Regions from separate parts of the Homo sapiens genome. Here region 2 is linked to region 1. Evidence: fine-mapped expression QTL. A gene starts in region 1. The other region holds a variant in brackets. All regions are shown on one strand. Distances are between the middles of the regions.

What was found.
Region 2: its variant is fine-mapped to the expression of SUSD3 in whole blood (INTERVAL, PIP 0.95).

What each region holds. Positions count from the first base shown.
Region 1 is chr9:93,056,298-93,061,661 of GRCh38, forward strand. SUSD3 (sushi domain containing 3) reads left to right here and starts at 2,404. Exons shown (of 5, transcript NM_145006.4): 1 at 2,404-2,533. The coding sequence starts at 2,446. RefSeq lists silencers at 2,119-2,568, 2,579-2,988 and enhancers at 2,499-3,479, 3,480-4,460, 4,529-4,578.
Region 2 is chr9:93,079,098-93,084,461 of GRCh38, forward strand. SUSD3 (sushi domain containing 3) reads left to right here. Exons shown (of 5, transcript NM_145006.4): 4 at 374-505. Among named protein-coding and RNA genes, the nearest start is that of CARD19, 14 kb to the right of the region's middle. RefSeq lists an enhancer at 3,430-4,058. The variant A/T (reference allele first, on the strand shown) is at 2,205.

The DNA of each region.
Region 1 (5,364 bases):
CAGTACAAATGGAGGCCCAGCGCCACAAGCCTGAATGTCCACAACCCAACCAAGCGACAGACTGCTCAGAAAAACATGCTCTTTCCTCCTTGATCCCACCTGTCAGGGGCTGAACTGTGTCCCCCAAAATCTATATGTTTAAGTCCTAACCCTCAGTACCTCCAAATATGACCTTATTTGGAGACAAGGTCTTTACAGACTCTTCTTTTTTTTTTTTTTTTTCTTGAGATGGTGTCTTGCTCTGTTGCCCAGGCTGGAGTGCAGTGGCACAATCTCAGCTCACCACAACCTCCGCCTCCCGGGTTCAAGTGATTCTCCTGCCTCAGCTTCCCAAGTAACTGGGACTACAGGCACGCGCCACCATGCCCAGCTAATTTTTGTATTTTTAGTAGAGACAGGGTTTCACCATGTTGGCCAGGCTGGTCGCAAACTCCTGACCTTATGATCCACCTGCCTCTGCCTCCCAATGTGCTGGGATTACAGGCGTGAGCCACTGAGCCTGGCCGGTCTTTACAGACTCTTTATAGGGTCTTAAGTTAAGATGAGGACATTACGGTGGGCTCTAATCTAATATGACTGGTGTCCTTAGAAGAGAGATTTGAACACAGAGAGACACAGGGAGAGCACCATGTGTAGACAGGAGTTAAGTTGCCACCGGCCAAGGAACTGCCAGAAGCTGGATGATACAAGGAAGGCTGTTCTCCTGGAGTTTTTGGAGGGACTGCAGGCCTGCCGACACCCTGATCTCAGACTTCTGGCCTCCTGAACCATAAGACAATAAATTTCTGTTGTTCTCAGGCACCCAGTCTGGGGTACTATGTTACACAGCTCTAGGAAACACACTTCCTAAATGGCCAGGTGTTTAGCATTTGAAGGCTCCTGAAGGCCTGGGTCACAGCGTGGTGGCTTAGGGAGCTGCAGGCAGCCTGGTGTTTTCCATCCCCACCTAGCTCCACCCAGCTATTGGAGGGCTGCCCCAGACCTCCCTCCCAGCCCTGTCCATGCACCTACAGGCAGTGGCCTTCTGCCTGGTGGTGCATGGTGGGCAAAACCAGGGAAGGGACCACACAGGCCTGAGAGGTGGGCTAGGGGCCACTTGGCAAGACATTCTGGGGTCCCAGAGTGTGGTCTGGAGTGGGCACTGCTGATGGCCCTGCCCTTCCCGACATGGCAGAAAGAATACACATGCTTGATTTTGAATAAAGGAGATTGAAGTAAGCCATCGTGTGTGACCCACAAGTCCAAGTGGGAAGAACATATCAGGGGTGACGCCAACCCTGATGGCGAAAGGGGGAGGGCCCCTCACGTTTCACACTGAACCTCAGCTTTGGAGGGCTCGGAAAGCAGAGACGGGGAGGGGCTGCCCTGCTGGAACCCTGCTTCATGGTCCACCTGAACATCCACACTCTTCACGGTCACCTGCCAGGCACTCTAGAGCCAGCCTGGCCCACCTGGGCCACCTTCTGCGCTCCTGGAGGCATGCCTAAGCCAGCCGCACTGGGCTTCTGCTGCCACACATTGCCAAACCAGGGCCTTTGCACCTGCTGTTCCCTCTGCCAGGATTGCCTTTGCCAGCTCCACAGGAATAGGCATGGCTCAGGTGGTCTCCCACAAGCAGCCCAAGATCCAGGATGTCTGAGGCCTGACACCACACCCAACCCTTTGGTGGCTGCCTGGGCAGGGGGCTAAGCCTGGGTTGGGTGGGGTCAGAGGGAGAGAAAGAGCCCGGATCACAGCTCTGGGCCTGCTGCAAGTGGAGCTGGGTGGGAAGGGGAAGCCAGGAGAAGGGAGGCCTCCAGGTGTGGTGGGCCCTGCAGACAGACCCCAGGGCTTTCCATCCTGTTTCCCCCAGCCGGGGGCCCCTCAGTGAGAACCGAAGACAACAAGGGCACCCAGACCTCAGTGTGCCTCAGACGGCCTGGCCCAGTGAGAGACAGGGAAAGAAGGCTGGGTCCACACAGGACTCTGGGGGTGAGTGGGTTACGGGAGGGGCGGGCCGGGGAGGCGTTTTGCTGTTTGCCCTTTGGTACCGGCCGAATCCGGCACCCTGAGAAGGCAAAATCCTGCTCAAAAAATAAAAACACAGAAGCACATGGAAAAACCACACTAGGAGTGAAGGTGAGAACAGGAAGGGATGGGGGAAGGGTGTTGGGCAGAGGTAGCCACGCGTGCAACGCCCCGGAGTAGCAACACTTTCCGCTCAGCCGGCTGCCTTGGCCCGCTGGGTATTTGGTCTCCCCAAGGGCCCCCGCCCACAGCCCCCGGCCGGACCTCGGCCCCAGTCCAACGTGTGGGCGTGGTCTGTAAGTTGCATGGAACCGCCCCTGGGCGGGCGTGGAGGGCGGGGCCTCCCCGCCCCTCACCCAGGCCCAGGCCCAGGCCCCGCCCCCACAAGCCGGGCTCACTCCCCTGGCAGACCCCGCCAAGCGCCTCGGAGCGCGCAGGATGCGCTGGGCGGCCGCCACCCTCCGTGGCAAGGCGAGGCCCCGGGGGCGGGCCGGGGTCACCACGCCTGCCCCAGGGAACCGCACAGGTGAGGGCTGGGGCCGAGTGGCCGCGTGCGGGGCTCTGCGCCCATTTCACAGACGGGAAAGCCGAGGGGAGGGGGTCGCGGGGCCGCACAGCCGTGGGTGGGGGCCACAGCAACGATCTGCCCCGAGGACGAACCTCCTCGACCCTCCGCCGGCCCAGCAGGCGCCCTAGCGGAGCCGAAGCCTGGCAGCGAGCAGTTCGAAACCAGGCGGCTGCACGCAGCAGCCCGCGCGCCCGTTCCCGAGTGGCCGCAGCGCCTTGGTCCCGGGCGTCTGCGGACAGCGCGGCCGGCCAAGCCTCTCCACGCCGCAGGCTCCGGGCCCCTCCGCGCCCCTCCCGGGGAAGTCGAAACCGGCCTCACCTGGCGGGCGGGTGGCGCGGGGGCGGGAGGGGGGAGCCGGGAGCCCTCTCTGCGCCTGAGGGAGGTGTCATCTTCACGATTCCTTGGTGACCAGCGCAGCTCCACTTTACAGATGGAGAAACTGAGCCTGCGAGAGGGGAGTGGCTGTCCGAGGTCACCCTGTAGCCAGGCTTGGGATCGCCTCGGCTGTCTCGGAGGAGGCTCAGAGGCCTTTGGAAGGAAGAGAAGCTGCTTTTTATTTTACTTTTAAGTGTTTGAATTCAAGAATGTGCTTAAAGAGTTGTCTGCTCCCGTGCCCAAGGCTCCGGGGTTCGAATGCTGGCCTTGCTCCTTGAATGATTCTAAAGTCTAACCCTTTTAGAAACGGAACCAAACCGGAACTCTGGGTCTCAGATATCCCAAAAGCTTACTTCCGCGGCCACTGCCCACGAACGTTAGGCCTGAGGGTTCTGGGCGTCTCAGGCGTTGCGGGGCTAAGGCTCTGCGCAGGAGGAAGCTGAGGCCCGGAGTGGGGTGGGCTGGACCAGGTCACACTGTCAGCCTGCAGCCCCAGGGAACTGGCAGGAAGGTGGCAGGAGAATGGCTTCCTCTCACAGTTGGGGAAACTGCGGCTCAGGGAGCTAATTCACCGAGCAGAGGTCCGCAGCTCAGCAAAGTGGGCGCTGAGACTTGTTCCTGGCGCTGGTGGATTTGGTTTATTTAGTTTGACTCTGGCAGCCTAATGTCCAGAGTCCCTAATTTGGTGTTGGGGTGATGAGCACTTTTGCTCCTGTGTTTGAGCAAGGCCTGCCCAGGGCCTGGTACTACCTGAGGAGCCCCTTCTACTGGCACAACAGCCTGGGGGCGTGGGTGCCAGTGCCCTTTGGATAGCCTTGACTTGCCCAAGGTCAGCCCAAGGCCAGGGAGTATCTGGAGGCTCTGGCATATTTGCATACAAAAGGCTGTTTGCCTTGGAATTTGTGCTGGGAATGGAGCTTAGTCTGGCACCCTGTGCTCTTGTTCATCCTGCCTGGCCCTGGCTCTGCCTCTGACCACCATGACCACTTCCCAGGCACTGGCCCCCTTGTTGGAGTTTTGGGTTAGGATCCCCCCTGTGACCTGGGGTGAGTCGCTGTACCTCTGTGCCTCAGTTTCCCCATGTGCCCCAGTTTCCCCACTGTATACCTGCCCCCAAGCTTGTGGACAGGCCCAGTGGAGCCCAGGGAGGGTACTTGTTCTGGTGCAGGGATGATGCCATCATCTGGACTCCATCACTCCCCTGCCATGTGACCTCAGTTTCTTGCTCTGTGAAATGTGCTGTGAAGTTAGAGGCTGGGGGGTTGGGAGCCTTTGGAGAGGATTTGACACTAAAACACCACTGACCAGGAGTGGTGGCTCATGCCTCTAATCCCACACTTTGGGAGGCTGAGGTGGGCGGATTGCTTGAGTCCAGGAGCTCGAAACCAACCTGGGTAACATAGCAAGACCCCGTATCTACAAAAAATGCAAAAAAAAAATTAGCTGAGCATGGTGGCATGCGCCTGTAGTCCCAGCTATTCGGGAGGCTGAAAGGTGGAAGGATTGCTTTCGTCCAGAGTTCGAGGCTACAGTGAGCTGTGATCACCTCACTGCACTCCACCCTGGGCAACAGAGCGAGATTCTGTCTCAAAACAAAACAAAAACCAAAAACATAGCACGGGGATGTGTGTTTTTCCCACCATCTTTAAAATGGGGCCATTACCACTGGTTTTCCTAGAGTAGATATGAAGAGCACAGTAGTGTGGACAGACTGATCTTCCTGAGAGGCAGGAAGTGGTCTTCCCTCATCTCCCATGAGCGCCCTGGGAGAAGGGCAGGGCGCGGGGGAGACTAGCTCAGAGTAGGAGTTTATCATGTTTGTTGTATGACTGGCCCCTGGCCCTGCTCCCAGGTCAGCCCCAGCACTCCCTGATCTGGGAGATTGTCCAGGAAAGCAGGGTTCCAGTGGCTGTAGGTAACCCCCCTGGCATCCGTGGAAGGGCCTTGGAGGAAGGGCCTGGAGAGGGGGTAGCAGGAGGCATGCTCTGCTGGTGCCTTCTTGGCTTCACCCCTGAACTCCTGCCCCAGAACTGGACTGTGTCCATTTTACAGAGGAGAAACTGAGACCCCGTGAATGCATGTGTAAATCAAAGCAAGGCAGACACACCCTGTGATGCCTGGCTATGGCCTCCTGCCACCCATTGGCATCGAAAGAGCTGCTGGTAGAAGGCATAGGTTCCCGGACCCTCGGTTTTCCACCAGGGATGTGGGAGTACATGTTCCTCATTTGGAATTAGCCCAGCTCTTTTATGGAGGATTGTGTGCTTTCCACATCCTGAGGCCACCCTGCTGCTCAGCCTGGAGATGGAAGGCAGAAGTGGCTCTGAAGCCTGTGCTCACCCTCCATGTGGAGATGGGCTCAGAGAGGGCAAGTGACTTACCTGAAGACACACAGCCAGGGCTGTGGGACACCC
Region 2 (5,364 bases), 23 kb after region 1:
GGCCAAAACTTAACCTTTTTAACGTCTACAGTTCAGTAGCATTAAGTATGTTCACGATGTAGTGCAGCCATTAGCACTGTCCAGCCCTAGAACTTTCCACCACCTGTATTTGTAAGTAAAGTTTTATTGGAACACAGCCATGTTCATTGTCTACTGGTGTGTGGCTACTTTTGGGCTGCAATTGCAGAGTTTAGCTGTGGGAGAAATCATGTGTCTCACCACACCAAAAACATCCACTGCCCAGCTCTTTGAGAGGTTTGCCAGCCTGCACTGGTCCTGCAGACGGTGCCCTGGGCCTACATGGAGCCTGTTTCCACCACCGTCAGGGATACACCTGCATGCTCAGAGTCCTTCCTCCCAAACTCTCCTCCAGGTCAGCCCAGCTGTGGTCCCAGCTGAAAGATGAGGACTTGGAGACGGTGCAGGCCGCATACCTTGGCCTCAAGCACTTCAACAAACCCGTGAGCGGGCCCAGCCAGGCGCACGACAACCACAGCTTCACCACGTGAGCCCGGGTCTGGGTAGGGGACATGCTGGGGGACAAGGGGTCCAGCTTGGTCAGGCCCCGGGCCACCTGCTGCTCCCACACGCTGAGAGCCTGCTGCTCCCACACGCCTAGCCCACCCAGAACCTTAACTCCCATCTCTAAAACAAGAGGCTGGTGGTCCTTGTAGCACTCTGTCCTGACTCTGACATTCTAGGACTCAGAACTGCCCCCAGCAGTGTTTTCATCTGGAGGGTCCACCCTCCAGGGAAGCTGAAGCTTCTACACACCTGTGTTCCCTCCACCTACACCCAGCAGGGCTCTGCACTGAGCTGCAGTCACTTGCTCTCCCTCCCGTGCTCTGTCCCTCTCCTTTCTCTCTCTCTTAATACACACATACATTTTTTTGCCCTGAACCAATATAAGGACATTCTTTTTCTGAGTCCAGAAATTTAATACTGATTGGCCAGGCTTGGTGGCTCACACCTGTAATCCCAGCAGTTTGGGAGGCTGAGGTGGGAGGATCACCTGAGGTCAGGAGTTCGAGGCCAACATGGTGAAATCCCGTCTCTACTAAAAACACAAACATTACCTGGGTGTGGCGGAGTGTGCCTTTAATCCCAGCTACTTGGGAGGCAGAGACAGGAGAATCACTTGAACCCAGGAGGCGGAGCTTGTAGTGAGCCAAGGTTGTGCCACCGCACTCCAGCCTGGGCGACAGAGCGAGACTCCGTCTCAAAAAAAAAAAAAAAAAAAAAACAAAACTAACAGAAATCTAATATTGATTGCACGTGGCCTGTTGAGTGGAGAATGTCCATAATCACACGCAGCACTCAGCCACCAGGTCTCTGGGCTCCTTAAACTGGTATGGGCCTTCAGTTTTTCATGGCATAGTCTTCTGAGGGTTCCAGGCCAGTGGTCGCATGCAGAGGCTCCTGTCTGCGTCTGTCTGGTGTTTCTGTGTGACCAGGCCCGGCTCTGCATTTCTGGTGCAGGGCTACATGTGCAGATCACAGACATGGGCCAGGCTGCCCCCACGGGCCACATGGAATGGGGTCTCTTGGCTGAGGCGAAGCCCCCCAGGTCCCTCCACTGTCAGAGCCTGAGGAAGGGGCTCTGCAAGTGTCCCTCCACTGTCTCAGCGGCCTCTGACTTGTGGTCTCAGCGTGCAAGGCTGATCCTGCCAGATCCGCTCTTGCCTTGGGCATTACAGAATGGTGACTTTGTTAATTCTGTTGCACTTCTGACATTCCTTCTATCAGGGATGAGGATGAGCTGTTTTTTTCTTTCCTTTCTTTTGATTTTGTTTTGTTGTTTTAGCATCACATGAACTCATGAATATTCTTTTCTGAAACTTTTATTTTGGGAAAAGTTCACAAATACACAAAAGTAGAATATTGTCACAGATCTCCTGTCCCTGCCTCCCATTCTCATGGTCACCAGCTAAGCCAGGCAACCTCATTCATGCCCCTTCCCCCACATTATTTTCAAGCACACTTTTTGTGGGCTCCAGTTCTTGGCAGTAGGAGCTCTGCCAAGCCATGGCCTGTGTCCTTCTGATCCATCCCCATCAGTCTGTGAGTGCTTCCTGCCTTGCACAAGATGTTCCAGGCCCATCTCATGCTTTCTGTGCCCATCTCTGCGGTTGGCCACTGCTCTGGGAGCCCTGTTTCTGTGGGTGGAGAACAGCGCTTAGACACCGGGGTCTGGGCGGGCATCC[A/T]GACGACATCATTGAGCTTGTGTTCCCTTCCTTCAGGCCCTCCTGCTGGAGTCTTTCGAGGCTGCAGTGCACTTGGTCCCAGCCCTCATGGCCTCACTGTATGACTAACAGCTCCATGCCTCGGTTTCCTCACCTGTAAAGTGAGGATTGCAGTAGCGCTCACCCTTTCAAGTTGTTGAGGTTACCTGAGTCCGGGTGTGTGCCTCTCTCGCCAGGCCCAGGGTGAGAGCTCATTGAATACTGGCTGTTACTGTCGTTGCCACTCTTACGACCTTATGCAGATGGGGAAACTGAGGCACAGGAGATGGTGGTCTCTGTGGCCCTGGGTTACACACACCGTGCTGGGTCTGGCCAACACCTGCAGGGAAGGAATTCACCTTTCTGTCTCCTTTCCTGACGCTTCAAGTGTGTATTACATCAACAAGGATGTAGCCGAAATGCTGCCATTGATACTTCTGCACTTAGCAACACGTTCCAGGTCACCATGGTGGTCTGAGGCCTCCAGGCTATCATTCCTTACAGCAGCCCATTATTCCAAAGCTTCCAATATCTGCTAGACCCTCCCCTGTTGAGTGGTCAGGCGTGGTCAGTGTCTTTTTGCTTAGTGCTGTTTTTCTTTTTCAAGACCACAACTCTTGGGGCTGATCCTAGGAATCGATTGTTTAGGCCCAACAGTCTGAATATTTTATGACCACATTCTTTCCCTGGGAGCTCTGGTACAAGTGAATGTGGCCATATTTTTCTGGTAACTGCATCATCACTGAGTGCTGACCATTTGTTTATCATTTGTTTCTTACAGTAGCTACAAGTTGTGTGGGTAGTTTCCGTCAGCATTTCTTTGATGAATGTCGAGGAAGAATGTTTTCTCCAGCCTTGGCTCACCAGTGCCATTGCTGGCATGAGTCATTTTCTGTTTTCTCTGCTGAATTACCTCCAAATGTTTTGCTCCATGTGTTGTGGGAGGGCACCTGACCCATCAATTGGCTGTACATTTTTTAGGCCTCTTTCCTTTTTTTTTTTTTTTTTTTTTTTTTGAGGCGGAGTCTTGCTCTGTCGTCCAGGCTGGAGTTCAGTGGCGCGATCTCGGCTCACTGCAAGCTCCGCCTCCCGGGTTCACACCATTCTCCTGCCTCAGCCTCCCAAGTAGCTGGGACCACAGGTGTCCGCCACCATGCCCAGCTAATTTTTTGTATTTTTAGTAGAGACAGGGTTTCACTGTGTTAGCCAGGATGGTCTCGATCTCCTCACCTCGTGATCTGCCCACCTCGGCCTCCCAAAGTGCTGGGATTACAGGCGTGAGCCACCGTGCCTGACCCCCTTTCCTTTTTATTTTAGTTTTGTTGGGGCCATGGTGGCTAATGCCTTTCCTTTTGGGTAGTGAGATATCCAAAGCCACTTTCAGAGCTCCTCCATTGCCCCACCTGTGATCCCCACTCCCCATTACAGCACTGGGACCAGATCATCCTGTGTCATAACTGGGAAAGTGCCCATGGAATGGGGGAAGGAACAATTGCCTCTCAAGGCAACATGGTGTCCAGGATGATGGCAGCCACAGCTGCTGCCGCTGCCGCAGGGGCTTTGCTGGCCAGAGCATGATGCCGAGGGGCTCCCAGGGGTGCTGTTTGGGGCCACACTTCTGCCTGGTCCCAGCGCCACAGACCCTGCCTCTTACACTGCGGGAACTTGTGCAGTGTGTGGTCGGACGTGTGCGTCCCGTCCAAGAGTGGCCACAGATCTGTGTACAGGGCTGTGTTCACCCCCTCTGGGGAGTGAGAGAGCCAGGGCGGGAGGGAGGCACCCTGACAGGGCCGTGAGAGGCTGGAGGAGGCCGGCTTAGGGGCCACTCTGACAGTCAGCTCAAGAGGCAGGAAGTGGTGGTGAGGCTGAGGGGGATTGGGAGGGGGACCCTTAGGGCAGAGCCCCTTCCCGGAGCTCTCTCACACATGGAGACCTCGAGCACTCAGCCCAGCTTCATGGGGACTCAGAGAAGGCGGGTCCTGCCCAGGGCTACAAAGCCGATGGAGGCAGAGTTCCCTGAGTCCCCAGCCCTGGGCCCCGGGCTCCCAGGCAGGATCCTCGGGATATGCCTGTGCTGGGGCTGCCCACCCCTCAGGCAGGGCCCAGGCTGCCTCCATAGGTGGTAAATTGCCTTTAGCAAGGTGAGGTTTGCCTCTTGACCTTGTTTTTATTTCATAAGTACTTCTCAGCACTTGCAATGTGCCAGGCACTGTTCTGAACTCTTCCAAATATTAACTCTTTTCACCTAGGGGTGGGTACTACTTTTATCCCGTTTTCCAGGTGAAGAACTAGGCAGGTTAAGAAACTTGTGTAGACTCCCACACAACCAGTAAGTGAGGCTGGGTGGAGTCAGTCTGGCTCCTGCCTCCCCGAAGCTGCCTTTCGTCTCCACCAGTTATTGATGCTTTCACTTACTCATTGCATAAGCAGATCATTTCTTAATTCCTACTACTTACTAGAGTTTTTCTGAGAATTAGTTGTGGGTGGGAGCCGTGATCCAGGAAGGCTTCCTGGAAGAGGTGATGCCGGAAGTGAAAGGACTAAGAGAGCCTGCTTTGGGAGGGGAGAGAGACAGCCTCTGAGGGGAGGAGAGGACATGCAAAGGGCTGGAGGTGGGAGCCGCCAGGCAGCCCACATGGAGCAGAGGCCAGTGTGTGTGTGGAGGCTGGAGATGGGACAGGGCCAGGGTCTGGTCAGCCTGGGGAATGGCTTGGTTTGTATCTGGGGGAGTAGAGAGCCACAAGAGTACTGAGGGTGGAGCAGGTGGGTGATCCAGCTCCTGGCTACCAAAGAGGCAGGCCTGGCAGGAGGGAAGATGTCCTCCCCTTGACCTCCTGCTCCCCAGCATCCCTTCTCTGCCTGGGACATCCCAGGCCCTGGCCAGACAGCTGGGTTCCTGGTGGTTTCTGCACACTCTGAATGAGCCCCAGGAAGTCCCTTCCCACACCTTAGGGGGGCAAGTGTCTGACTCCTGGGCCACGCCCTGGTTGTGTAGATGAAGGACCCACTTGCCAACAGGGCCCGGCAGGGAGATGGAGTGACCTCTGTGCACCTTAGGGTGCAGGGCAGCTCCCAGCAGGAGGAAACGGGCTCCCCAGTGCTCAGGGCAGCAGTTGCCCCAGGCCCACTGGAGGGCCTGGGT